Linked DNA regions of Homo sapiens. The protein of the gene in region 7 purifies or fractionates together with the protein of the main gene of each other region. This does not show direct contact. Each region holds a gene or a part of one and is shown on either strand. Other genes may lie near its edges. The genes, in order: THSD4, YEATS2, ZNF609, KAT14, DUS2, ECI2 and KANSL1.

The links.
Region 1: the proteins of KANSL1 (region 7) and THSD4 purify together in Homo sapiens (affinity purification with mass spectrometry; one large-scale study listed by BioGRID and IntAct). This does not show direct contact.
Region 2: the proteins of KANSL1 (region 7) and YEATS2 purify together in Homo sapiens (affinity purification with mass spectrometry, with the first as the bait; one large-scale study listed by BioGRID). This does not show direct contact.
Region 3: the proteins of KANSL1 (region 7) and ZNF609 purify together in Homo sapiens (affinity purification with mass spectrometry, with the first as the bait; one large-scale study listed by BioGRID). This does not show direct contact.
Region 4: the proteins of KANSL1 (region 7) and KAT14 purify together in Homo sapiens (affinity purification with mass spectrometry, with the first as the bait; one large-scale study listed by BioGRID). This does not show direct contact.
Region 5: the proteins of KANSL1 (region 7) and DUS2 purify together in Homo sapiens (affinity purification with mass spectrometry; 2 studies listed by BioGRID and IntAct, with this or other methods). This does not show direct contact.
Region 6: the proteins of KANSL1 (region 7) and ECI2 purify together in Homo sapiens (affinity purification with mass spectrometry; 2 studies listed by BioGRID and IntAct, with this or other methods). This does not show direct contact.

The regions. Positions count from the first base shown.
Region 1 is NC_000015.10:71,240,745-71,244,873, forward strand, and holds part of THSD4 (thrombospondin type-1 domain-containing protein 4 isoform 1 precursor), read left to right. Parts: intron 1-1,904; coding exon 1,905-2,352; intron 2,353-4,129. UniProt on the Homo sapiens protein: Promotes FBN1 matrix assembly.
Region 2 is NC_000003.12:183,808,836-183,812,964, forward strand, and holds the end of YEATS2 (YEATS domain-containing protein 2), read left to right. Parts: exon of another isoform or gene 1-17; intron 18-261; coding exon 262-335; intron 336-1,183; exon of another isoform or gene 1,184-1,616; intron 1,617-1,639; coding exon 1,640-1,748; 3' UTR 1,749-3,789; downstream 3,790-4,129. UniProt on the Homo sapiens protein: Chromatin reader component of the ATAC complex, a complex with histone acetyltransferase activity on histones H3 and H4. YEATS2 specifically recognizes and binds histone H3 crotonylated at 'Lys-27' (H3K27cr).
Region 3 is NC_000015.10:64,501,602-64,505,730, reverse strand, and holds part of ZNF609 (zinc finger protein 609), read right to left. Parts: intron 1-4,129. UniProt on the Homo sapiens protein: Transcription factor, which activates RAG1, and possibly RAG2, transcription. Through the regulation of RAG1/2 expression, may regulate thymocyte maturation.
Region 4 is NC_000020.11:18,165,213-18,169,341, reverse strand, and holds part of KAT14 (cysteine-rich protein 2-binding protein), read right to left. Parts: intron 1-4,129. UniProt on the Homo sapiens protein: Component of the ATAC complex, a complex with histone acetyltransferase activity on histones H3 and H4. May function as a scaffold for the ATAC complex to promote ATAC complex stability. Has also weak histone acetyltransferase activity toward histone H4.
Region 5 is NC_000016.10:68,057,567-68,061,695, forward strand, and holds part of DUS2 (tRNA-dihydrouridine(20) synthase [NAD(P)+]-like), read left to right. Parts: intron 1-3,499; coding exon 3,500-3,547; intron 3,548-4,129. UniProt on the Homo sapiens protein: Catalyzes the NADPH-dependent synthesis of dihydrouridine, a modified base found in the D-loop of most tRNAs. Specifically modifies U20 in cytoplasmic tRNAs. Activity depends on the presence of guanosine at position 19 in the tRNA substrate.
Region 6 is NC_000006.12:4,118,549-4,122,677, forward strand, and holds part of ECI2 (enoyl-CoA delta isomerase 2), read right to left. Parts: intron 3,499-4,129; exon of another isoform or gene 3,401-3,498; intron 728-3,400; coding exon 638-727; intron 1-637. UniProt on the Homo sapiens protein: Able to isomerize both 3-cis and 3-trans double bonds into the 2-trans form in a range of enoyl-CoA species. Has a preference for 3-trans substrates.
Region 7 is NC_000017.11:46,169,120-46,173,248, forward strand, and holds part of KANSL1 (KAT8 regulatory NSL complex subunit 1), read right to left. Parts: intron 3,114-4,129; 5' UTR 3,025-3,113; coding exon 1,736-3,024; intron 1-1,735. UniProt on the Homo sapiens protein: Non-catalytic component of the NSL histone acetyltransferase complex, a multiprotein complex that mediates histone H4 acetylation at 'Lys-5'- and 'Lys-8' (H4K5ac and H4K8ac) at transcription start sites and promotes transcription initiation.

The DNA.
Region 1 (4,129 bases), on a different chromosome or scaffold from region 7:
CTGCCACAAGAAAGAAAAAGGCAAATTATATCCAAGTTTTATATATATGTGTATACACACACACACACACACACACACACACACACACACACACATATATACATATATATGACTAACTTCTTAATTGCATCTCTTAAAACCCCCATCGTTAACAGAGTCCCAAGTGTTGCCAAGATTAATTGAGAAAGACCTAAATGCAAAATAAACACTGTGGCGTGGTTTAATTCCATATCAGCTAAGAATGAAGGTGCAATTAGTAATAAAGATGTTAATAATTAGTTGTGGTCTATTAAATTTTATGTTCAGTAATTATGTGGAGAGTGAAGAAAGAATTTTCTCATGAGGGCAGAAATCAATGTTTCACCTTGATTGCTATTTTAATGTGCTTATTTTAATGGGGCCATCCTGTAGAAACCCTTGGGCACATTTCCAATTTTACGTAAATGTAGAATTAATTATTATGGAAGCATATAATTTTAGAGTTGGAGCGACCTTGGCGGTCATTTAATCCAGCTCAGTCATCTTAAAAGTAAGTAAGAGTTAGTTGACTTACTTAAGTCCTTCCACAGAGATTTGGAACCTGCGCTCCTCAACTCTAATGCCAGTGAAGGCGAAACCTTTTCTGATCCCTTCAGACAGAAGTGCTTTTTCTTGCCTCAGAATTTCCCAAAGCAACATTTATTGTATGGCCTCTAAGGCCCTTACCCCGCCCTGCATTGTGATCTAGTTGCTTTCAGTTGTAAGGTTGGGGTCTTGAAAACTATGGATGATTAATTTTTGTATTTCTTCATCATTGCTAACTCTGTGTTTTGCAAAGAGTAGTTGCACAATAAATATTCATGCAGTGGTGTTCTGGAGCTGGTTTTTACCTGCTCACCAGAGCTCACTGTGTCTTCACATTGGTAGCTTGATATCAGCCATGATGGAAGTATTTACACCATAGGAGTGGGCAAATGCTACAAATCAGGGCTTCTACCCTGTCCTGCCCACGTCCCCCGCCCCACCCCACCTCAGGGCAGTGGGTCTTTACAAAAATCTAAAGATCTAAACCAGGCTTGTCCAACCCATGGCCCATGGGCGTCATGTGGCCCAGGATGGCTTTGAATGCAGCCCAACACAAATTCGTAAACTTTCTTAAAACATTATGAGATTTTTTTTTGCAATATATTTTTTTAGCTCATCAACTGTCATTAGTGTTACTGTATTTTATGTGTGACCCAAGACAATTCTTCTAAACCAATGTGAAGATGGCCATTTACCCATTGCTTTGCCTGGGCTACTTCAAGAGTGGTGAAGGAGCCAAGTATTTAACGCCCTTGAATATTTTCAGGATTAAAGTCAGTGCAAGTGAGGCCTTGGGACTGCACTAGAATTTGGTTGCTTATCTAAGTTCCATTACGTAGAAAAGCTCTTTGAGTATGAATAGTGAAGGAAACAGGGTCTGAAATATCACAGTTAGTTGAAGGAGCAAAAAATACATGATTAGAAAAAAAAAGTGAACAGGAAAGTTTCCTGTGGCTGAAATTGCAATCATATGTTTGTACTTCTCTGAAAACCTTCAGTGGCTCCCAGTGACCTACAAAAATGCCCAGACTCTTTGCATAAAAATTACACGCTGACCATAGTTTACTGTTCTAATCTCATTTCCAACCACTTGCATCATCCACTGTTCATCCTCTGTTGATTCCCTCTTTCATTCTACTTTCCAACTTCTGTGGAGCCTCTGTTCCAGCCTCCATGATGGTGCCTTCTAAAATGCGTTCCCCCTGCTTCCCAGTTCTACCATAGACCCTTTCCCAAGCTTCCGTTCCTACCTGGTCCTCTCTACCACGGACCAGAGCTTCTGAGTTAACATGAAATTCATCCGACTCTGATCATCTCCTCTCTTGTCTATCTCTCTTTAGGAGCAGGACCCGTGGTACCATTGGCCCTGGCAAGTATGGCTATGGTAAGGCCCCATATATCTTACCACTGCAGACAGACACTGCACACACGCCACAGAGGCTCCGGAGACAGAAGCTCTCATCCCGCCATTCCAGGTCCCAGGGAGCATCTTCTGCTAGGCATGGCTACAGTTCACCAGCCCACCAGGTCCCCCAACATGGGCCTTTGTACCAAAGTGACAGTGGCCCTCGCTCTGGACTGCAGGCTGCGGAGGCCCCCATCTACCAGCTACCTTTGACCCATGATCAAGGCTACCCTGCAGCTTCAAGTCTCTTTCACAGCCCAGAAACAAGCAACAACCACGGTGTGGGGACCCATGGGGCAACTCAGAGCTTCTCTCAGCCTGCCCGATCTACAGCAATCTCATGCATCGGGGCCTATCGGCAGTACAAGCTGTGCAACACCAACGTGAGTACACACAACCCATACCGGGCCTGGAAACAGCTGCCCCTCGTTTTTCTGTCATTTGGCACTAAGCATGATGAAGACAGCAAGGATATGGTGTCTGGGCCATGTTAACACACCTTTTAATCTTCCTCCTTTCTCTTTGCTTTCCATGTATTCTCCCTACATAGTTTTCTTTTTTTTTTTTTAAAGTTATTGCTTTAGTAACTTATACATTGCTTCTTGAATTGCTTATTGACAATCGCTTAATGGTGGTATTAATTATTAACAGCTATTGCTGCAAAACAACCTCCAAATTCTCAGTGACTTATATTAACAATATTTATTCTTTGCTCAAGTGCAATATATAAGTTTCCCAGAGGTTCTCTGCTATTCCAGGTGTAAACACTAGGTATTGTAGCATGAAGAAGTCTGAGAGTGAAGTTGTGAAGAGTCTTCTCTTAGGGGAAGAGCTGGGACAGCTAAGGTGATAGATGGCACACAGAGGCCTCTGGGCAGCAGTAAGTTCCTAACTGGTGTGGAAGTATGTTGTTATTTTAAGGACCTGTATAGCTGTACTCATGCATATATATACAGGTATACCCACTTTGGATATCAGTTCAATAAATATTTATTGATTTTATCTTCATGCATTTACATAATATCTACCATTATTAAAAACTCATAAGCCAGGCCTTGTGCTCAGCACTTTTTTTTTTTTTTTTTTTTTGAGATGGAGTCTCGCTCTGTCACCCAGGCTGGAGCACAGTGGCGCGATCTTGTCTCACTGCAACCTCTGCCTCCCAGGTTCAAGCAATTTTCCTGCCTCAGCCTCCCGAGTAGCTGGGACTACAGGTGCGCACCACTATACCCAGCTAATTTTTCTGTTTTTTTAGTAGAGACGGGGTTTCACTATGTTGGCCAGGATGGTTTCGATCTCTTGACCTTGTGATCTGCCTGCCTCTGCCTCCCAAAGTGCTGGGATTACAAGTGTGAGCCACCGCACCTGGCCTGTGCTCAGCACTTTTTCTACTAACTCCATTTCATCTCCTTAACCATGAGTTTGCTCTTCTCTTCATTTTATAGTTGCAAAGAGAGGTAAAATAACTTGCTGAAGATGCCACAGCTAGTGAGTAGTAGAACCAACTATCAATGTTAATTGTATATGGTGACCAAAGGAATTTTTTAAAATATCAGTTTAAAGACTGCGTATTAAAGAGAAGTGAATGAGAGGATGTTAAGAGGTTAAATTTCTGAGCCAGTATATTTTTCATTAATAATTTAATCTGCCTTAATACTCTGTTGCTGGGTAACAGGACAGCTGTTCTATATTAGCTTCAATTTCCTCATTAAAAATATATTTCCTGCTATAGAGTCCATAGAAATGACTTAATTTGTGATCTTAATAATTTCATTGAATGCCTGGGTTGCTTTTTAGCTTATTCTTCCACTGTCAGACTTCAGGAATCATTAATTTTAAAAAGCAGTAATTTTTCTAAGGCCATTGCTGATCAGTCAACCAGTAAGTCTTCATTGAGCATCATTGCTTGTCTTGTAACAGAGTAGGTGTCACGGAGAATAACAGAAAAGTCGTGGTATCTACCTCCTAGCATTGCTTTGAGGATCAAATGAGGGATGGTAGGAAAGTGCTTTGTAAATCAAAAAGTAAAGAATTGTTTGGTTTCATGGTCAGACATGCCCTTGTTCCTGAATATCTGTTGCTGTTCTTTTAAAACGAAATGAATTCATTTGTAATATACAACATATTCTCCCATTGAGTAGTGTATCTCTTAATTTTGAA
Region 2 (4,129 bases), on a different chromosome or scaffold from region 7:
CGAGAGTGAGACTCCATCTCAAAATAAATAAATAAATAGAATAATGTCTGATTAATGAAAATCACTCCAATTCATAATTTCTCAGAATCATGGCCTTTATCATTATGGTCTATTATTGAGGCCTTTAATTTTTTCTTAAGGACTTTTTAATCCCTAGTTGCAGTGGTTTCAAACATTTGGGGTAAGGGATGGGGTTAAATGTGTCCCTTCTTGCCAGCAAGCAGATGGCCATTTGAAGAATAACAGCATCTTCCATTGTAGGCTACAGAACAGCTGGTGAATGATATCCTGAGACAGGCTTTGGCAGTTGGATACCAGACAGCTTCTCACAACAGGTATTACTATCTCTGCAGTCTGTGGTGTGAGGCTTACACCTCTTTCCTAACAGTTGAATTGCCCATGAAGGTGTTTTATACTTACATCAATCCAGTAGGAGATGGAGTGAGTGCTTAGGACACTCTTAGAGCCAGATGAGCTCAAGGGTCTGCTTTGTCATTTTTAGAGAACCTCATGGTTGTGAAAGCTCACTCAGCTTTGCTCAGAGGTTTATATCCTCCTCATTACTTCACAGACACCTAGGACTCTGTTTTATTACAGGGTTGAATAAATATTAGCTTTGCAATTAAAGATAACAGTGTCCATTACATGTCAGACACGAGGGCCAAGCGTTGCATATATTACCTAATTTGTTTTTCATTGCAGAACTATTATTCTCTTTTTAAAAATCAGGAAACCGGGCTTTGAAAGGTAATTTTACCCAGCTTACCCAGCAAATACAGTGTAGACCTGGACTTCCGACTCAGGTCTCATTGGCTCTGAGGCCCCTGGGCTCGCCACTGCTCTTTGCTGACTCGTTGTCTTTGATTAAGACACTGAGTTTCAGTCTGTTCCTAGGCCCTGAAAGGATGGTAGATAGGCCACATCTGCTTTTCTTTCGGAGGAAACAAATATTATTTTATTGCATTATGCTAAAGGCTGTCACAGATTTATAAAATTGTAGCAAAGTGCCTGAGGACATGAAGGGCCTAAATCAGAGGAATAGTAGATGAAACTTCACAGGAATATATCAGACAACATAGGCGTCTTTAGAGAAAAGGAAGGGGAACCAAGAGTTCCGGTCCTGCTGCCCACTGTCCTGCTTGGACCCACAAGTGAGCCAGGGCCTCCTGTGGCCCCTGCTTACCTCTGTGCTCCCTGTCCTGGAGGGGTAGAGTGACTTAGGTGCTTTTGATGGAACGATTAACATCACGCCTGGCCTGGCGTGGCTCCGTCTCCCGTCTTTCTAGGAGATGGGAAATAAGGTCCCAGAGTTTTGTGGTGCTTTGACTCAGCTTTCGGTCTGCTGAGACTCACTCACAAATGTGTCATTCCGTTCTGCCATCCGCTTTGTTTTCTTTCTCTTTTCTCAGTTCTCAGAATCTTTTTTCCTAATTATTCAACCAACTTGTTGACATCCTTCTCATGCCTATGACAGGAAGGCAGTCCTCACCCCAGAGTGGCCCTAAGCTATGTCTGTGGCTCAGGAGCCCTCTCCACGGGGCCTCTGCCTGGGATGGTCCCTGTGATGAGTTAAGTGAATAAATGATGAGATATACGTGAGAGAATTTCACCTGGTAACACCCTTTGTTTTTTGGACCAGGATTCCCAAAGAAATTACAGTGAGTAATATTCACCAGGCCATTTGCAACATTCCTTTTCTGGACTTCCTCACAAACAAACACATGGGAATATTGAATGAGGACCAGTGAGCGGAGTGAGGTGCCCTGGAGAAGCAGGCTTTGAAGGCACAGCGAAGCTGTAACTGAGGACCCTGCTGCTCGGGAAGGAGGTGGTTTCCAGTGTGACTCGGCATGTCATGGCTACCCAACCTTTGCCGCTGCCTGTTCCCACGTGTCACCAGCACGCTGCACTCCAGATGAAATCCTCCTAGGACAGGAGTTTGTTTCCTGAGTGTGGAGTGAGGCTGTCAGTGGATCCGTGCTTTGTCGGCCAGCGTTTCTGCAGTCTTTGTAAAGGCCCCACGAGAGCGGGCCAGGCCGTGTGCCTCAGGCCCTTCTCCCTGGGTGTGCTTAAGGGGGCTCCTTGGGCCCGCCTCCCCAGGAGGTAGAAAATGAGTGGCAGGCTAGAGATTTCACCCATTTTGTGGGCTGGAGTTACCAGTAGCTCCAGCAGTTACCCTGAAGAGAGATTGGGCTTCAGCCTTCAGCAGGTGGTTCTCTCCCATGCCTGGCCTTGGTGTGGAGGGGCTGTACTCTGAGCCCAAGTGAGTCAGCTATAGGAAGAGGCCATACCTAGAGCCAAGAACCATGAAGGCCTGAGAGACGGCAGACTGAGCAGAATTCCTTTTTTGAGCACGAGAGCATTACTAGAACCATTGTCAAAGCAGTGGCAAGGGACGGAGAGGTCCCAACAGGAGTCAGGAAGAGGTTTGATTATAACCAAGAAAACTCACTATGCTAGGAATAGACTGTGTGCACCAGTCCCAGACACTTGGCAGAAGTGTAGCAGCGTTACACATGTGTGCGAAGCAGATCGCAGGTTCCACGCCATCTGCATGGCCTGCAGGAGCTTCTGCTGCTGACCCCATGCTGAGTGGCCAGTGGGGAGCGGCGCCCGGCAGGCTCTTCTGGGGTCGTCTGTCCTATCCGTGGATTGTATATACTCTTCTCTGTTAAGGAGTTTTTCCCAAGAAGAAAAGTATTTAAAAGAAATACCAGTGAGTGCCTTAAAGTTGGAGAAGTAACTGCCCATGCCCAGAAATAAGGATGCCAGTGCCCAGAAGCAGTGAGATTAGTCTGTGTCCACAAGCAGAGGCCCCCTCGATGGGAGGGAGTGGCAGGCAGGAGAAGGTGGCGCTGCCAGGTGCCCGGGTCTATTGGAGGCGCCCCATCTCAGACTTCCTAACACAGCCTGTGTGGAAGGCAGAACAAAGAATGCATGCCCAGTCAGAAATCTGTTCTATTCTGCTCCAGGAAAATCGGAAACCTGTGAGTCAGAGTCAGAGAAACTTACCCAAGCAACGTAATTCCTGTTTTCATGGGTCCTGTAGATGTTTGAGTCAGGAAGGTAAGGCGGGGAGTGACTGAATAAACTCTGCCTTTTAAATTGAGCATCTGGGCCGGGCATGGTGGCTCACGCCTGTAATCCCAGCACTCTGGGAGGTCGAGGTGGGTGGGTCACCTGAGGTTGGGAGTTCGAGACCAGCCCGACCAACATGGTGAAACCCCGTCTCTACTAAAAATACAGAAAATTAGCTGGGCATGGTGGTGTGTGCCTGTAATTCCAGCTACTCGGGAGGCTGAGGCAGGAAGAATCACTTGAACCCAGGAGGCGGAGGTTGCAGTGTGCCAAGATCATACCACTGCACTCCAGCCCTGGTGACAGAGGAGACCCCGTCTCAAAAATTGATTGATCAATTCAGCATCTGAGGGCTGCAAGTACAGAAGGAATCTATTCTCAGCAGGGCATAGGGCACGCACTGGCTTAACAGTTTAGTATATAAGGCTCAAATAGTCTATACCTGAACTGCTATAAGCAAGGTCGATAGGGAAGTGGATAGATTGCTTCAGCAAAGTGAACTGTGAGATCTCCAGGACAGAGGGAGAAAGATCTGATCCAAATGAGAACAGATTGGTTATTGCAGGTATCACAGCCTAAAGAAATTATCTTTTTGCAAAAGAAATATTAAATGATTTAGCAGTCTCCACGTGTGTTAATGTTTCAAACGTGTATCATAATGTGTATAATTGTGTAACAAAATTGTCTACAATAAATCTTTTGGTATTTGTGGTGGGTGTTTCTGAGTTTGAAGCATGGTACTCAGGCAGGGTTCTCCCTGCACTGGGATGAGGTGATGGTGTAGAGTCTTATTGATATGTTTAAATTAATTCCTCTACTTCTTGCCAAAAAAAAAAAAATGTTGCAACCGTATAAGATAAAGGATTACAGTTACATAAAAGTCTAAAAAAAATTTGGAAATGGACATAATTATTCCTGACAGCTTGGGGCAAAAGAAAACTGCATAAATGAGCTCAGAGCTTCCTTAAAGCCAAGGCAGAGAGAGAATCAGCTCCTCGTGTCTAACAAAGAAACATACCGGGTTATCTGGCAGGGTAAAATTGGACTGTGT
Region 3 (4,129 bases), on a different chromosome or scaffold from region 7:
ATCTGGAGAGACTTCTGGAAGTACAGATTTCTGGGCCCTTACCCCAAAAACTTATTCGGCATATCTAGGGTAGGGTCCAAGAATGTGCATTTTTGATACTCTGGTGATGTACATGGTTTTATGGGACACACTTTTAGGAACTCTGCTGTAGACGGTAAACTGTAAGCTCCTCAAAAAGCAGAGACCATCTCTGTTTTATTTACCAGTGTATACCCAATACCAAGTAGAAAACCTAGTATCTAAAATGCATTCAATTAATGTACTGACTGAATGAAAAGTGATAACAATTAGCCAACAGTATATCTTCTCTACAAAATACTTAGTAATATCCACAATACATTTGAAGGTCTGCCTATTAGTGATGTGTCCAAGGAAGAAGCACTAGAACAGGGTTTTTTTTCTTACCTGCAATTGCCAAGTAAAGAAAGAACTATTCCTCAATTATTATAATGAAAATTTGGCTGGATGAAATATTCCAGAACACACACACATATATCATAAGTAGTCAAGCTCAAAGTAGCAGTTTTAAAGTAACTTTCCTTCTTTATAAATAACAGGATAGGTTCAGTGCCAGCTGTAATGGTTATTCTTTGCAAACATCATTCATTACCTTACCTAAAATCCTAAACTCAAAGATCCTTTGTTTATTGAGTGTCTACAATGTTAAAGTCACTGTGAAAAACAAGTGAAAGCAGTTTTGGGGTAAAAGCAATTTTGGAGTATGTAAGCATTTTCATCTAATGTTTCAAGGTAGTCTTTACATTGAAAAAATGGCTGGGTGTGGTGGCACACACTTGTAGTCCCAGCTACTTGCGAGGCCAAGGCAGAAGTGCATAAGTGAGACCAAGGCAGAAGTGCATAAGTGAGGCCAAGGCAGAAGTGCATAAGCCCAGGAGTTCAAGATCAGCATTGGCAACATAGCGAGACCCTGCCTTAAAAATAAGCAAATAGGCTGGGTGTGGTGGCTCATGCCTGTAATCTCAGCACTCTGGGAGGCCGAAGCAGGTGGATCACTTGAAGTCAGGAATTTGAGACCAGCCTGGCCAACATGGTGAACCCCTATCCCTACTAAAATTAAAAAAAAAAAAAAAAAACTAGCCAGGCATGGTGGTATGCACTTGTAATCCCAGCTACTCGGGGAGCTAAGGCAGGAGAATCGCTTGAATCAGAGGCAGAGGCTGCAATGAGCCGAGATCGTGCCACTGCACTCCAGCCTGGGTGACAGAGTGAGTCTCCATCTCGAAAATAATAATACTAAGAAAATAACAAATAAAGTGGGAAAATTGAGAATCCTTCCTGACAGTTAAAGATTTGTTAAGAATCCCAGAGTAACAACATGCCATAAGAATTTGGTGTCTACAAATCTGGCTTTGCCAGTGACTACCTGTGAGATGCTGGGCAAGTCACAGGACTTCACTGGTCTTAGTTTCTTCTATAAAATGAGGAAATTGGACAAGATAATCTTTCTCTGGAACTGCCTTGAATTACAACACCTAGAAGGAAAACAGAGTTTCTGAATGAAAAAATAAATTAAGCTTGTAGTTACAGAATGCAACTCTGTCCCACATAAATATCAACTTCTTTTTAATGTTTTCCATGAAGGAAAATCTTGAGGGCATTTGGTTTCAGGAAGCAAAGCTGACTGCTCTGCCATCAATAGCTGAGAAATAACAGCTAGTGGAAGAAGGCGTTAAGAAAGCCTTGGATCAGAAGGAATAAAAGAGACCTGACCTTGGTTAGGCAATGAGGGACTACAATACAAGAGAACTAAGCTAGAAGGCACAAATTAGGGCAGGAATACAAAACCAATGGCAAAGGAAGATGCTCTTAAGAACACAGGATATGATAGCATGCATGATCAGAAGTTGAAAGAGCAAAGAGCACACTTTATGGTTTTCTTTGTATCCTAAACTAATGGGGGAAGTGGTAAATATATGCAGCATTCTGAAAGCAGCAGAAGCTGACATTCAAACACGGGAAAAGCAAAGTGCAGTGTTCCTACCTTGCAAGATCAAAAGCAGCAGCTAAAGACATGTGAGGGGGAGCTTCTGGTTAGAAACTTCTAGATCCTTTCTTTAACTACTAGAGCCTACTTGGCTATTTTATATGATTTGGGGGAAAAGAAGGAGTCTCACCTTAAACTCCTGGTCGTAAGCCCTGACAAAGTCAGCACAGATAGATCGTTGCCATCTGTGGTTTGTAAATTCCTTTTTTCTTGCCTGTCAGAGTGGCGACATAAGCACTAAGCTCAGGACACTCAGACAGGCGCCTGCCCTCCTCCCTACCTCCCCTTCCATCCCTAACTTAACAATCCATCAATCAAACTAAAGGCAAGGGAACAGGCAAGAGCTGGAAGGCTCTGTCTTGTTTATTCCTCAACATTCCCTCCCCCATCTCTTCAGCTGGCAGGAAGTATGAGGCAGAAGTGTTCAATAACAATTCAGAGCAGCAGCAGTTGCTAAGAGCCATCTCTGGTCTCTCCTAGAACTCTGGGAAACAGCACAGAGCTCACTCTGTCAGAGGAAGGTATGGTCGAGCAAAAGTGGGATCCCATGAAGGGAAATCCACATCCTTGTCTGACAGAAAATTTCCCAGGCCATAGCCTGAGATATCTACCTTCACAAAGAAGAACATGAGATAGATAATTTCTCTCTTTCTTTTTTTTTTTTTTTGAGACAAGGTCTGGCTCTATTGCCTAGGCTGGAGTCCAGTGGTGCCGTCTCAGCTCAATGCAACCTCCACCTCGCAGGCTCAAGCTATCCTTCCACCTCAGCCTCCCCAGTAGCTGGGATTACGGGTGCACACCACCAATGCCCGGCTAATTTTTGTAGAGACAGGGTTTCACCATGTTGCCTAGGCTGGTCTCAAACTCCTGAGCTTAAGCAATCTGCCCACCTAGGCCTCCCAAAGTGCTGGGATTACAGGCATGAATCACCAGGCCCAGCCAGTAATTTCAATATTCAAATCTTCCTCATTGGCTAGTAGTCAACACTGCTACTCTGCACCACAGAATTCAGTCAAGAAACTTCCCAAATTTTATGAGTTCTTCCTCTTCATGACAGTTCCCAGTTGAGAGGATGCAATTCTTAGATTATATCAAAACATCTGTTTTGCTATTTTGGTTCTGTTTGTTATCCCTACATAGAAACGTCCCAAACCACAGGCAAGCCCATTTCTCAGAGAGAAAATTTTAAAGAAGTTTTCAAAGACTTTGCTTATAAATTATAGTACTAATCATCAAATACTCACTGAGCACCTATTATGCCCCAAACCGGAGATTGTTGTTTCTCAAAAACCGCTCCTCTGCATGGTTCCTAACTTCCTTTCCTTTAACTTGCCTCTTCTGCTCCTCCCAGTCCAGAAATGTTCTCTCCCTGCACAGCATGTTTTAATCTCCTAGCAACTTCCAAACATTTATTTAAATAATTATTTATTTCAATAGCCAAAGGTAATATGGAAAGGCACCCTCAGGACCAGACTGTCCAAAAGGGTTGAGGGAACAGGGGAAGGAATTGAGAAAGCAGGTTCTTGCTTATGGTTACATGAAACTGTATAGCAAATTTTCTGCTTCTAAAAGTAATTGCCAGCAATTTTCTCTATCTTTCAAAAACTGAAGCACAGTCTCTTTCCCTTTTCTTTCTCATTCTGCTGCCCCATTCTCAGAGTCTCCCTGGGAGGCAAAGCTTATATGGCAAAGCAACATTATTAAGGGACAAAACTCCCTGGCACCAGGATGTATTCTTAGCTGAACATACTGCATCTTTCAGCCCAATTATAATCTGAAGGGCAGCCACCCAATCAGTCCCTGCACCTCTATGTGAGAAAATGGGTTCCATTTGCTTCTCTGTTAGAGACAATCATGGACATTTACACTTAAATCCAACATAAAGCTAAGCAATATTAATCCTTTCATCCACAGACTATCACTGGGCTTAGAAGGTTGCAACATAAGTACTCTAAAATTTAGATAGGAGAATGAAGGTCATCCTCAGAAGTACTTTTTAGCACAGGAAGAATAATGATTATGAATATGGATATATGGCAAGAGTTTCTTGAAGCCAGATGTAGGGAACAGTCTAATGGGCCTGGAACAGAAGCAACAACTGCTAGTACTCCTAAGCCTCTTTAA
Region 4 (4,129 bases), on a different chromosome or scaffold from region 7:
GACATAAGATTGTCACAAACCTTCCATTTGTACAAAATGCAGTATCTGTGAAGTGCAATACAGCAATGTGAATAAAACAAGATATGCCTATAATATGTTTAATATGTTAAGGGCTTAATGGACAAAATACACAATATGCAAGAACAGATGGGCAATTAAAGAGATGAAAACTCTGAAAATGAATCAAAAAGAAATGCTGGAGATAAAAAACACTGTAACCAATATAAAGGTTGCCTTTGATGATGGGCTTATTTGTAGACTGGACACGGCTGAGTAAAGAATCTCTGAACTTGAGGATCTGTCAGTAAAAACTTCCAAAACTGAAAAGCAAAGACAAAAAAGATGAAAAAAAAGAACAAAACAGACTATCCGAGAACTGCGGAAAACTACAAAAGGTGTAATAAACACACAATGGGAATACCAGAAGACAGAAAGGAATAGAAGAAAAATTTGAAGCAATAATGACTGAGAATATCCCCAATTTAATGTCAGACACCAAACCACACATTCAGGAAGGTCAGCGAACACCAAGCAGAATAAATGCCAAGAAGCATATAAAATACCTCTGACCAAAAGAACAGAGTTGTCAAGTAAGACAAATGAGAACAAACACAATTTCTGTGTTTTGGATGTGCTGGAAAATAAAATAATAGAAAAAAGAAAACAAAGCTTTAAAAAGAGAAAATAAAAGACACTTAACATGCACTAATTAAAGATAAAAAACAAAGAGAAAATTCTGAAAGTTTTAGGAGATGGGAGAATAAAACAAGGAGGCCACTTAATTGATAAGAAACAAAAAAAATTTTTTTTTTTTGAGAGAGAGTCTCACCCAATCACCCACGCTGGAGTGCAGTGGCATGATCTCAGCTCACTGTAACCTCTGCCTCTCTGGTTCAAGTGATTCTCAAGCCTCAGCCTCCCAAGCAGCTGGGATTATAGGCATGCGCCACCAGGCCTGGCTAATTTTTTTATTTTTAGTAGAGACGGGGTTTCACCATATTGTCCAGGCTGGTCTCAAATTCCTGGCCTCAAGTGATCTGCCTGCCTCGACCTCCCAAAGTGCTGGGATTACAGGCATGAGCCACTGAGCCCAGTCAAAAATTTCTATTTCTTATCAGTACCGGGGTTCTCAGGAGTGACACTGTATGTAAGATGATAATGAAGTCATAATTTCAAAATATCAATGGAAAAAACTAAAATAACAATTTTATATGACTGCTATCATTTAAATGAAAAAGTGAAATGAAGATATTCTTAGTCGTATAAGTTTTCAAAATTAACCTCAAAAAGCCCATATTTTTAAAGAACTGTTAGAGAAAGCAGTCCAGCAAGAAATTAATCTAGAAAGAAACAATAGGACGAGTGAATAATTTAGTAAAGATTTATGTCATTTAAATAAGCAATACAAAAGAAAAAAAGAGATAAGTGCATGAAAATGTACTTTTTTGTTTGGGGGGACAACCACATGATATTAAAAAAAGAATAAGGAAAAATAAATGTATCTTAAGTTAGGACCTATAAAAAGAATAAAAATAGAATGTATAACTTTCTTTATGGTACAGAATGAACATCACATAAACTATTTTCTCTGATCATAATACAACATTAGAAATCACATCAATTACCAAAACATAGCTTAAAATTCTCATATATCTGAAAACCAAAAAACAACTAAATAACCTTTGGATTAAAGAGGAAATAATGAGAAAAATAACAAAATGCCAAGTACTGATTGGAAATAAAATCACATCATTTCAAAAGTCAAGAATCACAGCTAAAGCAGCACTTATTGAGAAACTTATAGCTACGAATACATTCAAAGAATAAATATAAAACAAGAGTATGGATTGAATAAATGCATTTACAGCCACTCCCTGTGTAAATACATTAAAATTTATACTAAAATTCCAAGTTAAGACTGGGTTAAAACACAAGCATATAAAGCTTTACTACTTCCCAAAATCCCACTAAAACTATAGAAGCTGACTTAATTAGAACAGTAACTGGTAAACAGATGGACAAATAGTAACTGATTTAACACCAAAATCCCAAAGTGGCTTTGGGTAAGCTAAATGAGAACTAACCCAATCTATACTACAGAACCCGCTAAAATCCAGGCAGCAGCCAGCAGATTCCTCTGGAACTGGGACCAAATGGGACAATAAAATAAGGAGCAGGCAAACACCATGTGGAAAGCAGTATGATCCCCAGATCCTTCCACTCCCTGTTGCTGGGTGGCTGCCCTCCCCCAGAAGCCAGGAGGTCTGATCTCTAGAGAACTAACAGGGGATCCAGCTGGAGGGCTGAGGTGTGAGTACCTGACAAGCTGAATGCTAAGGTCCCTCTTCCCCAACTTGGCAACCAGCATCCTGAGCCCAGAAGATTATTCCCCAGGGACTCTGACTAGATTCAAAGAAAAAACCTAAAGGAAGTGCAGTGGTCCTCAACAGAGGTCTCACCTAGACAATGTGGCTGTGTATGGAATTCCAGGTTCAACCTCACTTAATGAGGGTCTTTTCAGTATGTTGGTCTCAAATTTTACTTCCCATGCAGCTTTTCTCAGGAAGTCATTAAGAACAAGGGAATAAACCTATAACAAGGTAAAGATGGGCCACAGGAAACAGGAGATCAAATACAGAGGAGGGCAAAAGAATCTCCAGAGAGGGGAGATCCCAACACCCCTGCTGAGTTTCACAACAAAGGGTGAACAAGTGTGACCCAAGGGGCAGACATAGTGTAGAAAGTAAAAAGTTTCCTCTTCAAAGTTTTCCTTCTTGTTAAAGAATAAATCATAAGTGTTAGAAATAACAGTTTCTTTTAAAGACTAACTTTCTTCAAGTCTCCTTGCCTTGTGCTAATAACTCTTTGTTAAGCCCTATCCTCTGTAACCGTTGGACATGCTCACAGGCACGTTCCAGCCCACAGTCTACGCCCCTTCCTTATTTGGAAATGTTATTGCTTCCTTAAACCTTTTGTAAGCAACTTCTTTGTTCTTCCCTGCACTTACCTATTTAGGAAAGTTTTAGGCTATTAGCAAATCGGGTATCAGTTTAAGATTGTGAGGTCCCGCTCCAGCCAGTGGATGCAGGACACAGCAGTAAGGACGACCCAAGTGCGTAAGGGATAAATATGTCTGCTTTTCCTGTGTTCAAGTGTGCTCTCACCTTTGTTCCATCTGCAACTGAGCACCCTTTCTACAGAAAGAAAAGATGGCCTTGCTGAGATACCTTTTGTCTCTGTGCTGACTTTTCTTCGCAGCACCGATTATCTATTTCTAACAATTTTGGTATTTCTAACACATATTGAGGCTATCATCCTTAAGTCCTTGCTGCCACTGACCATCTTTTAAACCTATGGCGTCGTGGCCCAGAATCTTATCTACGCTCAGCTTGTCTTCACCATGTACAGGTGAGCCTCCTGTACACCACCCATGCCCACCCCAAAGACCAGCTGATGATGCTCACTCCACAAATAACTGCTTTGACCTTCTGCAAGCTGGAAGGAAGCTGTCAGCTCAGGCAGGAAATACAGAGGATCCCACTTCCTCTGCCCAGATTTCTGCCGCATCTCTGGTATACATCACAGCCCTGGCTGATGCATACGCTATGGTGAGCCTCATGTTTCCCAGGACTCCCTAGTGACCTTGGCCAGTGACTACCTCAGAAGGGGTTCATGGAAGCCGAAGCCAGAACATCACTGTAAGTATTAGTTTCCCAGGGCTGTAGGAACAAAGCACCACAAACTGGGTGGCTTAAAACAACAGGAATTTATTGTCTCACAGTTCTAGAGGCCAAATGTCAGAAGTCACAGTGTGGGCAGGGCTATGCTCTCTGGGGTACGCACTAGGGGAGAATTTGTTCTGTGCCCTTCTCTTAGCTCCTGGTGCTGCCGGCAATCCTTGGTGGTCTTGGCTAATTATATTTGCAAAGGGCCTATTTCCAGATAAGGCTGCATTCATAGGTACCAGGGTTGGGACTTCAACATATGCTTAAGGGGGACACAATTCAGTCCACAACAATGACCCAGAATGACTATTTAGCTTATCTTCTCCAGGAAACTTCATCTAATAGTGGCAATTTACTTACACAGCTAGATTTATGCTTGCTACTCAGTATTTTTTTAAACGAAA
Region 5 (4,129 bases), on a different chromosome or scaffold from region 7:
TATAAAAATTTTCAAAAGTTTAAAAAAAAAAGGCCAGGCCTGGTGGCTCATGCCTGTAATCCCAGCACTTTGGGAGGCTGAGGTGGTCAGATCACCTGAGGTCAGGAGTTTGAGACCAGCCTAACCAACATGGTGAAACCTTGTCTCTACTAAAATTACAAGCAATTAGCTGGGCGTGGTGGTGTGTGCCTGTAATCCCAGCTACTTGGGAGGCTAAGGCAGGAGAATCGCTTGAACCTGGGAGACGGAGGTTGCAGTGAGCAAGATCATGCCACTGCACTGCAGCCTGGGTGACAAGAGCGAAAATCTGTCTCAAAAAAAAAAAAAAAAAAAAAGTGGATGCAGTGTAAATGTTCCCATTGTCGTATCAGAAGAGATCAGACTATGGTAGCCCAGAGAAGGGAGTGGAAAGGCAGCCTTTAAACTTGGAATTTGATAGGGAAATATTGTCCTTGGGCTGAGATTTAGGACCCTGTAAGCAGAGGGTGTGGTATAAGCAGGGGCCTGGGGATGAATATGAGGTAGACACAGGGAGGCCTGAGTAGCCCGATTTGACCAGAGGTTTGTCGAGTGGGAGATGATGAAGAAGAAGCAGACTGCAGGATCGAAAACCTTGGTTGGTAAAAGATCAGCTGGACTTGGACTTTAGGTATCTTTGGGCTTTTTTTTTTTTTTGAGATGGAGTCTCACTCTTGTCGTGCAGGCTGGAGTGTAGCAGTGCAATCTCGGCTGACTGCAACCTCCGTCTCCTGGGTTCAAGCGATTCTCCTGCCTCAGCCTCCTGAGTAGCTGGGACTACAGGTGCCCGCCACCACACCCAACTAATTTTTTTTGTATTTTTAGTAGAGACGGGGTTTTGCCATGTTAGCCAGGCTGGTCTTGAACGCCTGACCTCGTGATCCACCTGCCTCGGCCTCCCAAAGTGCAGGGATTACAGGTGTGAGCCACTGTGCCCGGTGGTTTTGCTGTTTTCTGATTACTTCTTTGTGTTCCTAAATTATGTGAGGAGCAGAGTTAAAATGATCTGGAGGCAGGGTAAGGTGGTATATACCATTTATATAAGGAGGATAGGGAATGATTATATATATTTATTTGTTTATTCAGGGAAGATTTTTGGAGAGACACAGAAGAAACTAGTAACATTGATTTCCTCTGGGGAAGGAAACTTAAGTTTTTATCTGGTTATGCATAGGTAGTAAATTCCCATTACAGGGGTGCTACTGAAAATAATTAACTGGCACAGCACTGGCACTGATCAGTCAGAAGAGACACCAATCAATATGCCACACATGTACATACTAGCTGAATATCTGCTGTGTTCTCATGGTTCAAAAATTGAAGCCAGATAAAAAGCATAGATTGAGGCTGGGCTTGGTGGCCGATGCCTGTAATCCCAGCACTTTGGGAGGCTGAGGCGGGCAGATCACCTGAGGTCAGGAGTTCAAGACCAGTCTGGCCAAAAGAATGAAACCGCATGTCTACCAAAAAATATAAAAATTAGCCAGGTATGGTGGCAGACACCTGTAGTCCCAGCTACTTGGGAGGCTGAGGCAGGAGAATTGCATGAACCCCAGAGGCAGAGGTCGCAGTGAGCCAAGATCACGCCACTGCAGTCCACCCTGGGCCACAGAGTGAGACCCTATATGAGAAACAAAAGAAAAAAAAAAGTATAGATTGAAACATTTCCCATTCCTTAGGCAGGGAGACTTCTTACTCGTTACCCATTTGAATCTCTCAAATTTTGAATGTTTTACCTATTCAAAAAAGCAAGTAAGTTTAATAGAAACGAAGGAAGGAAGGAAATTCCATTGTTGAGAAAGCTATTATTGTGGAAGGGGCAGTGAAACTGAATTTTAGATCCTGTGATTCTATAAGGAAGGGCTGGATACGTGTGAGTGGAAGGACAGATGGAGCCAGGGGGAGTGCTGGGGCTTCCTCAAGGCCTTCAAGGTTTCTTTTATGACCAATGTAGTCCAGGCTTGGTGGATTTTCCAGTCTACCCATTCTTCTTTAAAATCCAGGCTCAGCCTGGCCGAGTCTGTGGTGGTTTAATGTTCTCTCTGATTCCAATTTATCATCCTTAAACATGAAATTAAAGTGTAATAACTGAACTTACACCTTCTGAGCACATTCTGTGAGCATTCATTAGTATGTAATCTTTATACTGGCAGCATATATTTATTGGAATTGTTTTTTTTGCCTTCATCTCACTCTTAATGGATTCAGATTTTTAAAGATCCCCCTCCTCCATTATTAAAGTAATTAATACCATTGTCTAGAAGTTGGAAAATATAGACAAGTACAGAAAAGAGCAGGAAAATCACCAGTAACTCACAATAAAAAGCAACCACCATTACTATTATCAAGATTCAAGTGGTTGTGTGGGTTGGTAGTTTCCATTTCCTGGGGCTTTGGTTAGAGTTGGGCATGGGTCTGGGCTGGGACATTGTTGCTGGCAGAAGAGAAGGGCCTAGACAAGGTTTGTAAGTTGTGTGCACCTTAGTAGCTTTGCTGGTGGTGTTGATGCCTATGCAAGCATTGAGTATGATAGGAAGAAGGCACATTTGATCTTATTTCAAATGAAGGATGATTCATTGTTTTTTAAGGGCTTGGGAGATGGTGGGATTTAGTTTATTAAGACACTGAGACCTGGGTTAGGGAGTGGGCAGTCTTGAAAAATAAGTTTTATATAGCCCACTCTAGATAGATTTGTGGGATTTACCAAGGGGATCAGAATGATGACTTTTTTGTTTGTTTGTTTGTTTGAGATGGAGTCTTGCCCTGTCAACCAGGCTAGGGTACAGTGGTGCAATCTCGGCTCACTGCAACCTCCACCTCCTGGGTTCAAGCAATTCTTCTGCCTCAGCCTCCTGAATAGCTGGGACTACAGGCACACACCTCCATGCTCGGCTAATTTTTGTATTTTTGGTAGAGACTGGATTTCACCATGTTAGCCAGGCTGGTCTCGAACTCCTGACCTCAGGTAATCCACCTGACTCAGCTTCCCAAAGTGCTGGAATTACAGGCGTGAGCCACCACGCCCAGCCTATACATTTTAAAAGTCATCACTCTGGTCTGGCCAGCCTGGCCAACATGGTGAAACCCTGTCTCTACTAAAAATATATTAAAAAATTAGCTAGGTGTGGTTGTGCATGCCTGCAATCCTGGCTACTCAGGATGCAGAGGAAGGAGAATCACTTGAACTGGGGAGGTGGAGGTTGCAGTGAGCCGAGATTGCGCCACTGCACTCCAGCCTGGGTGACAGAGCGAGAATCTGTCTCAAAAAAAAAAGAAAAAAAATTATCACACTTCAGTCCCAGATGTTATGGGCACAGATACTGCTGCCCTCCTACTTGTTTAAAAGAAGTGCCGGTTGCCAGTGGGCCTTGGTCCCTTGGAAGTGAGTGCCGGGGTGACGCTCAGTTGCCAGACCCCATCCCATGGAGAGGGCCATAGTGTCTCCCAGATGTAAGAAGACCTTTTGTGTGTTTCTCCTTAGGGAGGAATGGGAGCTGCCCTGCTGTCAGACCCTGACAAGATTGAGAAGGTAAGTCCTCCACGAGTGAAAGCAGGGGTCCTCAAACACAGCTCCAAACTAGAATTGTCTAGAACGCCTCCTTCCACCAATACCAGATTTACTGATGTCCACCCAGTTTCTCTCCCTGAGGCCTAGCGATTTCCAAAAAATTTTCCAGTGATTTTGACATGCAGCTAAGTTTGGGAACCCCCGAGCCAGCCTACAGCAGCCTTGATGTTCCTAAAAAGCCCAGAGCAAGAGACATGTCAATGAAGAGCCAGGGGTCCTGAGGACTCACAGAGAACCTCCTCTGTATTTCCTGTCTCCCTTCTGGGAAGGTCTTGAGAGCAGAGGCCAGCCCACCTGTGGTGAGGACGGGCTCAGTGGCCATATGTGTTTGTATGTGTGTGGGTGGATTGGCCTCTCCCAGGGGGCTTGATGAGAGGAGCAGTGGGTCCCCTATGTCCTGAAAGAGTCTACCCCAGCCCTTGGAGAGAAGCCCGGGCCAGGGTCAGAGGAGGCAAGCTGAAGTTAGTCTCTCTCTGTTCCCCTTTCTTTGGTGATTCTGTAGGCTAGCTTAATGAGGCCCTGGGGACAGGTTTGTGTTCCTCT
Region 6 (4,129 bases), on a different chromosome or scaffold from region 7:
GCTTCTGGTCTTGTCACAATCCCCTTCGAGTCATGCCACAGGGCGTGGGCAACTAGGAAACACAGTGAAAGACCTGAGCAGCCACTTAACCAGCCTGGGAGAGAATACACCCGTGAGCAGGCTGATGGAAGGGCTGCTGTGATTGGGGGTGGCTCTGGCAGCCGTGAGCCCCCACAAAACCTCCCATCTGTTGGTACTTACTGTAACTCTGAAAGTGAAGACGTCATCATGTCTCTCCTTAGGAGATACTGGTCATCCATAAAGGAACCGAGTGGCCTCCAAACTCAGGGGACCAAGGGAGGCTGGCACAGCCCTGGTCCTTCAAGTGACTAATGCCACACAGCTGCAAGGCTGAGGTGCTGTGCTGCTTGCAGTGCAGCTAGCACTAAGCAGCCAGCTGAAGAGGAGGATCCCAGTTCTGGGAACTGCAGAGAGAATTTCTAATTTTCCTGCATAGCAGATACTTCCCATAGCCTGATTCCTCCATTGGTAAAACTCTTAAAGAGTTGAAAAGCAAATCATTAGCTTCTCTTTTGTCCATATTACCAAGGGAAAGAAGGGAGAGTATATGAGATTACTCTTCCTTCTTTCTTGAGATGACTCATAAAATTTTATATTTAAACATTCCAAAAGTTACCTTGGCTGGGCTCATTATCTTCGGAAAAGTGTAAGAGGAGCATCCTTCCGGACTTTGGCCTAGGTGACTAAATGGTGTATGAAATGTTGCCTGCAGAGGCAGGAGAGAAAAGAAAACCATCTTTTCATGTGTGATTTTTTTTTTTTTTTTTGAGACAAAGGGTTTCGCTCTTTTGCCCAGGCTGCAGTGAAGTGGCGCGATCTCGGCTCACTGCAACCTCCACCCCTTGGGTTCAAGCGATTCTCCTGCCTCAGCCTCCACAGCAGCTACGATTACAGGCATGCGCTGCCATGCCTGGCTAATTTTTGTATTTTTCGTAGAGACGGGGTTTCGCCCTGTTGGCCAGGTTGGTTTCAAACTTCTTACCTCAGGTGATCCACCTGCCTCGGCCTCCCAAAGTGCTAGGATCACAGGCGTGAGCCACCATGCCTGGCTTCATGTGTTATTTTTAAAAATCACGATTTGCTTATAACTTCACAATACTTAATAATATTTATTTAAAAATTAAGATTATGTGGTTAATATGCACACACAATTCACCCTTTAAAAGTGTATAGTTGGATGAGTTTGAACAAATAGAGAGTTACATAGCCACCACCACTACTGACATGCGGAACATTTCAGCCACCCTGAAAGGTTCCGGGGGCCCTTCTGTAGTCAGTCCCTCCCTCCCACCCCCAAGCAACTGCTAATCTGTTTTCTGTCCCTACAGTTTTGACTTTTATAGAATGCTGTATAAGTGGAATCCTACATTCTGTAGCATTTTGAGTCTGACTTCTGAGAGTCACCATGCTGTTGTATGTATTAGTAGTTTGTTCCTCGCTATTTCTGAGTAGTATTCCTTTGTATGGATGCACAATAATATGTTTATCATTCACCAGTTAATGCCATTGGTGTTGTTTCTAGCATTCAAATGGTTGTACCATTTGACACTGCCACTAGCAACGTATGAAAGGCTACTATGAAGAAGGCTGCTATGAAAAACAAGTTGAACACCTTAAATATATCTAGTCGTGTGTTGCTTAACAATGGGGATATGTTCTGAGAAATGCATAATTAGGCAATTTTGTCATTGTGCCAATATCATGGAGTATACTTACATATACTTGGATGCCACAGCCTACTGCACACCTAGCTATGTGGTAATCCCTACTGCTTCCAGGCTACCAACTTGGACAGCATGTTACTATACTTAATACTCTAGGCAGTTATAACAAATGGCATTTGTGTATCTAAATATATCAAACATAGAAAAGGTAGGCCGGGTGTGGTGGCTCATGCCTGTAATCCCAACACTTTGGGAGGCAGAGGTGGGCAAATCACCTGAGGTCAGCAGTTCGAGACCAGCCTGGCCAACGTAGTGAAACCCCATCTCTACTAAAAATACAAAAATTAGCCTGGTGTGGTGGTGTGCACCTGGAGTCCCAGCTACTCGGGAGGCTGAGGCACAAGAATTGCTTGAACCCGGGAGGAGGAGGCTGCAGTGAGCCGAGATCATGCCACTGTACTCCAGCCTGGATGACAGAGTGAAAAAAAAAAAAGAAAAGGTATAGTAAGATATGGTGTTATAATCTTAGGAGACCAGCGTTTTACATGCAGTCTGCCATTGACTAAAATGTTGTTATGCAGCACCTGACTGTACAATTCTTATTTGTCAAGTATACCTCAATGAAACTGAAAAAAAATTTAAAAATAAAAATGTTCAGATAATGTTAACAAAAAGGCAGTTAGGAACACTTGTGTACAGGTCACTGGGTGAATCTCTTTTAAATTATCATAGGTAAATACCTAAGTGGTATGGCTGGTCTGTGTGGTAAATGTATATTTAGCTCAGAAGCTGCTAGACTGTTTTCTAGAGTGGTTGTACCATTTGACATTCCCACCAGCAATGTATGAAAGTTCCAATTGCTCCACATCCTCACTAAACCTAGCTATTAAGTCTTTTTCATTTTAACCATGCTAGTATGTATGTAGTGGGGTCTCACTGTGGTTTTAATTTACATGTCCCTAACCATTAATGGTATTAAGTCTCTTACCATGTACTTATTAGACATACGTATATTTTCTTTGGTGAAGCAACTGTTAAGATATTTTCTCCACTATTTTTTTAAGTTAGGCTGTTTACCTTCCTATTATATAGTTGTAAGATACACATTCAGATTGCAAGTCTTTTATTAGAGCGTCAGGCAAATCTTTTCTCCTGGTCTATGGCTTATCTTTTCATTTTCTCAGTGGTTTCTCTCATATGGTTTTAATAGCCCTTTATATTTCATTTTGTCTGACCTATTCATTCCTCACCATTGCCCATTTTTATTTTAGCTTGTGGATCTATCGCTTTATAGACAAACTTTAAAAAGTATCGTGGAGAGATCAGCTTTTGTTACATGAGTTGAAAAATTGTTTCCTCAATCTGTCATTTGTCTTGATTTTGCCCCAGTGGTTTTTTTGGTTGGCTTTAACTACTGGAATTAATTCAATATTGGTTATTTAGTATATAGTCATTTTTAGTTTTTTTTTTTTTTACATTTAAGACATATTTTTGTGTTTCTTAATGAATAAATTATGAAAGAATGTTAATTTAAAATTCATAATATGTAAAAGAATATTTAGATTTCATTTCCTATAATCAGACACGCTGTTGTTTTTACTATATAACTGTTAGAAGATATAAATCTATAACATATGCAGCATATACATAAAAATAATCACAATATTTTTAAAAGTTTCTGTTAATGTCATGTATCTTCTTTTTTTATCCAAAAGAAAACTTATTCAAAAAAATGTACCCAGAAGACACAGCCTAAGGAATACAAGCAGGAAACTGAGAAACCTGCCAACAACAGCTAAAGGGACACAAACAGGTACATGCAAAGTTGCCAGTAAGCAGCATTTAAAATGCTGATTTTCAGAAAGAGAGCAGCAGGTGGAGTTAAGGGTTTAGGCTCTGGCGTCAGACTACTTAGGGACGTTGGGAAAGTTTCTTACCCTCTCTGTACCACAGTTTTCTCATTTGTAAAATGGGAACCAATCCTTCTTTGCTTTTTTTTTTTTTTGAGACGGAGTCTTGCTCGGTTGCCCAGCCTTGAGTGCAGTGGCGCAATCTCAACTCGCTGCAACCTCCGCCTCCCGGGTTCAAGCGATTCTCCTGCCTCAGCCTCCCGAGCAGTTGGGATTATAGGCGTGCACCACCACACCCAGCTCATTTTTGTATTTTTAGTAGAGACGGGGCTTCACCATGTTGGCCAGGCTGGTCTCGAATTCCTGACCTCAAGTGATCCACCTGCCTTGGCCTCCCAAAGTGCTAAGATTACAGGCATGAGCCACCATGCCCAGCCTAGATTGTAAAACTTATTTTTGCCACATTGGAGGAGAATGTTTGTTTTTATAGACAGGGTCTCACTCTGTTGCCCAGCCTTACTCTTGCCTCAGCCTACCAAGTAGCTGGGACTACAGGCGCCTGCCACCACACCTGGCTAATTTTTGTATTTTTAG
Region 7 (4,129 bases):
ACCTCTAAGCACAAAATATTTAACGTTAACCAAGATATTTTTAAAGCGGTGATTTAAACAGCAAAGTTAGTGGGGATAATGCCATGAATATTAGCAAGCTGAATTAAGCTACTAATCCATTTAAAGAAAGATGGGTTACGGAAGAAGCAAGCCTCTGAAGCATTTGCTTTAAATCTAAATACAGAAGTGGACTTGAGCACAGTGAACTAACAAATGATAATAGAACTAGGTCTACAAGGAAGAAATTCAGCAAAAATTATCCATTTCTTCCTTCAAAATAGAAAAAAAAAGTTTCATTTCAGATACAATATCCATGCAGATAATATAAACAAAATTGGGAAACCAGAAAATTTACTTTTAAAAATCATAGCTGTCTCAACAACCAAACACTCCAGTGAAAATCTTCATCACCTTTTAATACAGTCAAGGAAACACCAATTCTTCCCACATATTCATCTTTTTCAGCCTTCTCTAGTAAGCCAGCCTCTAGCAAAGAGAAAATGAAAGATCTGCTAGTCAATTATCCTGCCCCTCTTTTCCAACTCCTCATGCTCTCTCTCAAATCTGATATTCCTAAGGAGATAAATGCACTTATTTAACATGTATCTTTAAGTATGTTATAATATAGTACTGCTTTATTTAATTAAGTACATAGATGCTGAATTGGGAGTGACAGGAATGAAACGTCTCTGTCTCCACCATGCCAATTTGGAGTGCCACCCATAAAAAGCTTATGTAAAATTTTCTCAAACCAACAGATTTAGAAAAACCAGTAAGATGAGGTGGGCGGATCACGAGGTCAGGAGTTTGAGGCCAGCCTGGTCGACACGGTGAAACTCAGTCTCTACTTAAGAAAAGAAAAAAGAAAAAAATTAGCCTGACTTGGTGGCGGGTACCTGTAATCCCAGCTACTTAGGGAGGCTGAGGCCCGAGAATCACCTGAACCCAGGAGCCAGAGGCTTCAGTGAGCTGAGATCGCACTACTGCACTCCTGCACTCCAGCCTGGGCGACAGAGCGGAACTGTCTCAAAACAAAACAAAACAAAAAACAACAAAAAAAACAACCCAGTAAGAATTTATTCCAAATACATCAATACATTTAACTCAGCTTAACAAATCTGCTTAAAATGGGCTTTTTTTTTTTTTTAATAGGAAGAGAGTCAGGTTGTGAAACTAGACTGTGCTTGGAGGCGATGTATTAAATATTCTGAAGCATTTTCTAATTGTCAGTCCTTAAAATGTAAGAAAATCTCAAGTGTTAAAATTGAAGACTGGGTGTGCTCTCTGCTGAAAGTTCAATCAAAAGCAACTGTAATTTCCTACAAAGGTAACTAGGTCAACTCAGCATTTGTCCCTGCTTACTGGAAACAACAAAATCTCAACAATCAGGCCATTAACTTATCATGTCCTATATATAGTTTCAAAAGAAATCTAAATTCACTCTTAAAGAGGTACTAGTACAATTTTACACATAAGATGTCTCCTAGTTATTTTTCTTAGACTTCAAAAGGAAATTACCACCATTTAGACTACAACAATACAACCCTACAGCAAAAGTATCTTCCCCTTCTTCACTAGCATGTATATGCACTCATCTACCCAACATCAGGGAAAAAACAAACAGAACCTAGACACCTATGTACAAAGAATCACATTCTCTCCATAATGGCGATTCATTCATTCTTCCTTGTGCCAACATTTCTCAAGAATGCTATCATGCATGAGGTCTACTCACAGGGGTACATGACGCTGCTCGGGATCAGCTCTGGTCAGTTCTTCCTCTTCAATATCAGACTCCCCTCCTGAACTACTGTCAGTGACATCTGAATCAAATGCCTGTTCACTGCACCTCAAGTTGGCTATGCCACTAGCTGTAAATCTCTCCAATTCTTCTGAAATTGAATTGCTTTTCAGAAAGTTGCTAAGTCCCTCTGAAGTGGTGGTCTCACTGGCAGCTTTTCTCAAGGCAGCTTCAGCCTTTCGAGTCAGCATCAACTGGCTCCGTGGTCTCAAGGATTCCAAGTTTGGCAGTTTGCTCAAAGTCTTCTCCAAAAATCCACCCAGCTGATGTTGTATATGCCTCTCAACCTGCTTGGCTTGCACAACCTGTAAGCGCTTTTGTAATCTGCGGGCACGGCTCTCAATGTCAGCCTGTCGCCGCAGTAAAGCTGTTATCCTTGTGTCAGAATCTAAAGCACTGAAAAGAATGGAAGACAGGGGAGACTTTTTACCCTCCAATTTGACACCCCCCAAGTTAGAGCTGGAGTCTGTACCAGGTGATAATCTACTGCTTCCTTGAAGTGCCGGCTGTTCCATGGAATTGACAGAGGATTTGTTTGCAGTGCTATTATTGCTATACAAAGTTGTGTGTTCTACATCAAGGCTTCTATGTGGAAGAGTGCAATTGGTCATACCCCCCTTCAAGTCCCCAGATTCAGATCCTCCCATTTCACCCCCATGAAGAGCAGATGAAGTGAGAGCCCGTTTTCCCCCATTGAGGGAAGTGGAATTGTCATGATCAGAATGTGTTGAACTTTTAGTCAATTTCTTAGCCAACCCATTTACAGGTGCTTGTGGCAGAGCTGTCTGACCACTCGTATTCATGGTTCTAAGATTTTCTAAGGAAAACTCCAAAACTGGCTGTCTCCCCAACAGCTCAGCTCGGAGTTCATAGGACTGAGATAAGAGAGGATGAGATTTAAGGACTGTCTGCTTGCTGAAGACCCCTTGCAACTTCAAAGACTCCTTTGAGGGAACAGATGTTACATCAGAGCAGAGATAAGATGCCACCAGTGGTTGCAGCTTTCCCAAGTCTTCCTTGGTAGGATTATTTCGGAAATCTAGGCTGGGATCCTCTGCAGCAATGGCTTTTCTTTTGGTTCCGTTGGCAGCAATAAGGATGTTGGCGTTGCCGTTATTTTCGGCACTGCCAGGGGACAAGGTAGAGGATGGGGGAGCCAGTTTGAACCGGATATGGTGTGCTTCAGCTGCTGCGTCAGTGAGAGCGGGCGCCATCGCAGCCATTCAGCACAGAGAGACAGGAAGTCCAGCCTCTCCCGATGCCGAGGCCGAGGCCAGCTCCACGGCCCCTTACTGCCTCCCCAGAGAACAGACTAGAAGAGAAAGGAGAAAAGAATATTAGAAATACAAGCACTTTTAAAAACATGTATATTTTTAACAAAAGCACTACTTGAGGCTGTTGTCTAAACTGCCTCCAGAAAGAAAACACTCTGGAGCTAACTGTACCACAGTTATTCTAGAGACCCAAATATCTTTCATCTGGGAGAAAGGGGGAGGCAAAATCCCTGCACAAGGGAAGGAAGAATTGCACCCTTCTTGTCATTTGTTACCACAGATTGAAAGGTGCCAAAACACAAGTTCGATTCAGAGAAAATCACAGATTGTTAAAATTAAATCATCTCCATTAAAAAAAAATCTCTTTAAGCTTGTTGAAATAAATGGATTTAAAGCAAGACACATCAAACTAAGCAATAATTAAACAGAAAAAAATTAGTAAGGAATTCCCGTGTTCACTAAAAAAAGTATGCCAAATATCACAGGTCTGTGCATTTTTCTGGCCAGGGAATCCAGTTTTCATCAGCTTCTCACTTCTCTAGAAGTATAGATTATACTACAAAGCTAACTGTACCACATCTGTAATACCAACTTGTTTCATCAGTTTTCTTTTCTTTCAGATCAAAGTGGTCATCAATATCTTCTCTACTGGCTTCTTCCTCTCAGCCTAGGAATTTACTCAAGTATCTTCTGCCCTCAGTACAGCCTCTCTCTCATACTTAATTGCCCAAATATCTCTCTTTCCCTTTACCCCAAAACTTCTCTAAGAATAGTATAAATAACTGTCTCTGCACTCTTCACTCTTCCATAATCTGGATTTCACCCCCTACTGCTCTGGCAAAGGTGACCAGTAATCTTATTATCAAATCCAATGGTCAAACCTCAGTCCCCATTCTATCTGACTTCTCTGAAGCACTGGACAATACCGACCTTCTTCTAATTCTTTCCTGATGTCCTTGTACTATCATCCTCTTCTCTTCCTCCTGGACCCTTAAATGCTGGTGCTGCACAAGGTCCCTTCTGCCCTCTTCTCTCTCAACAACCACTAGTATGG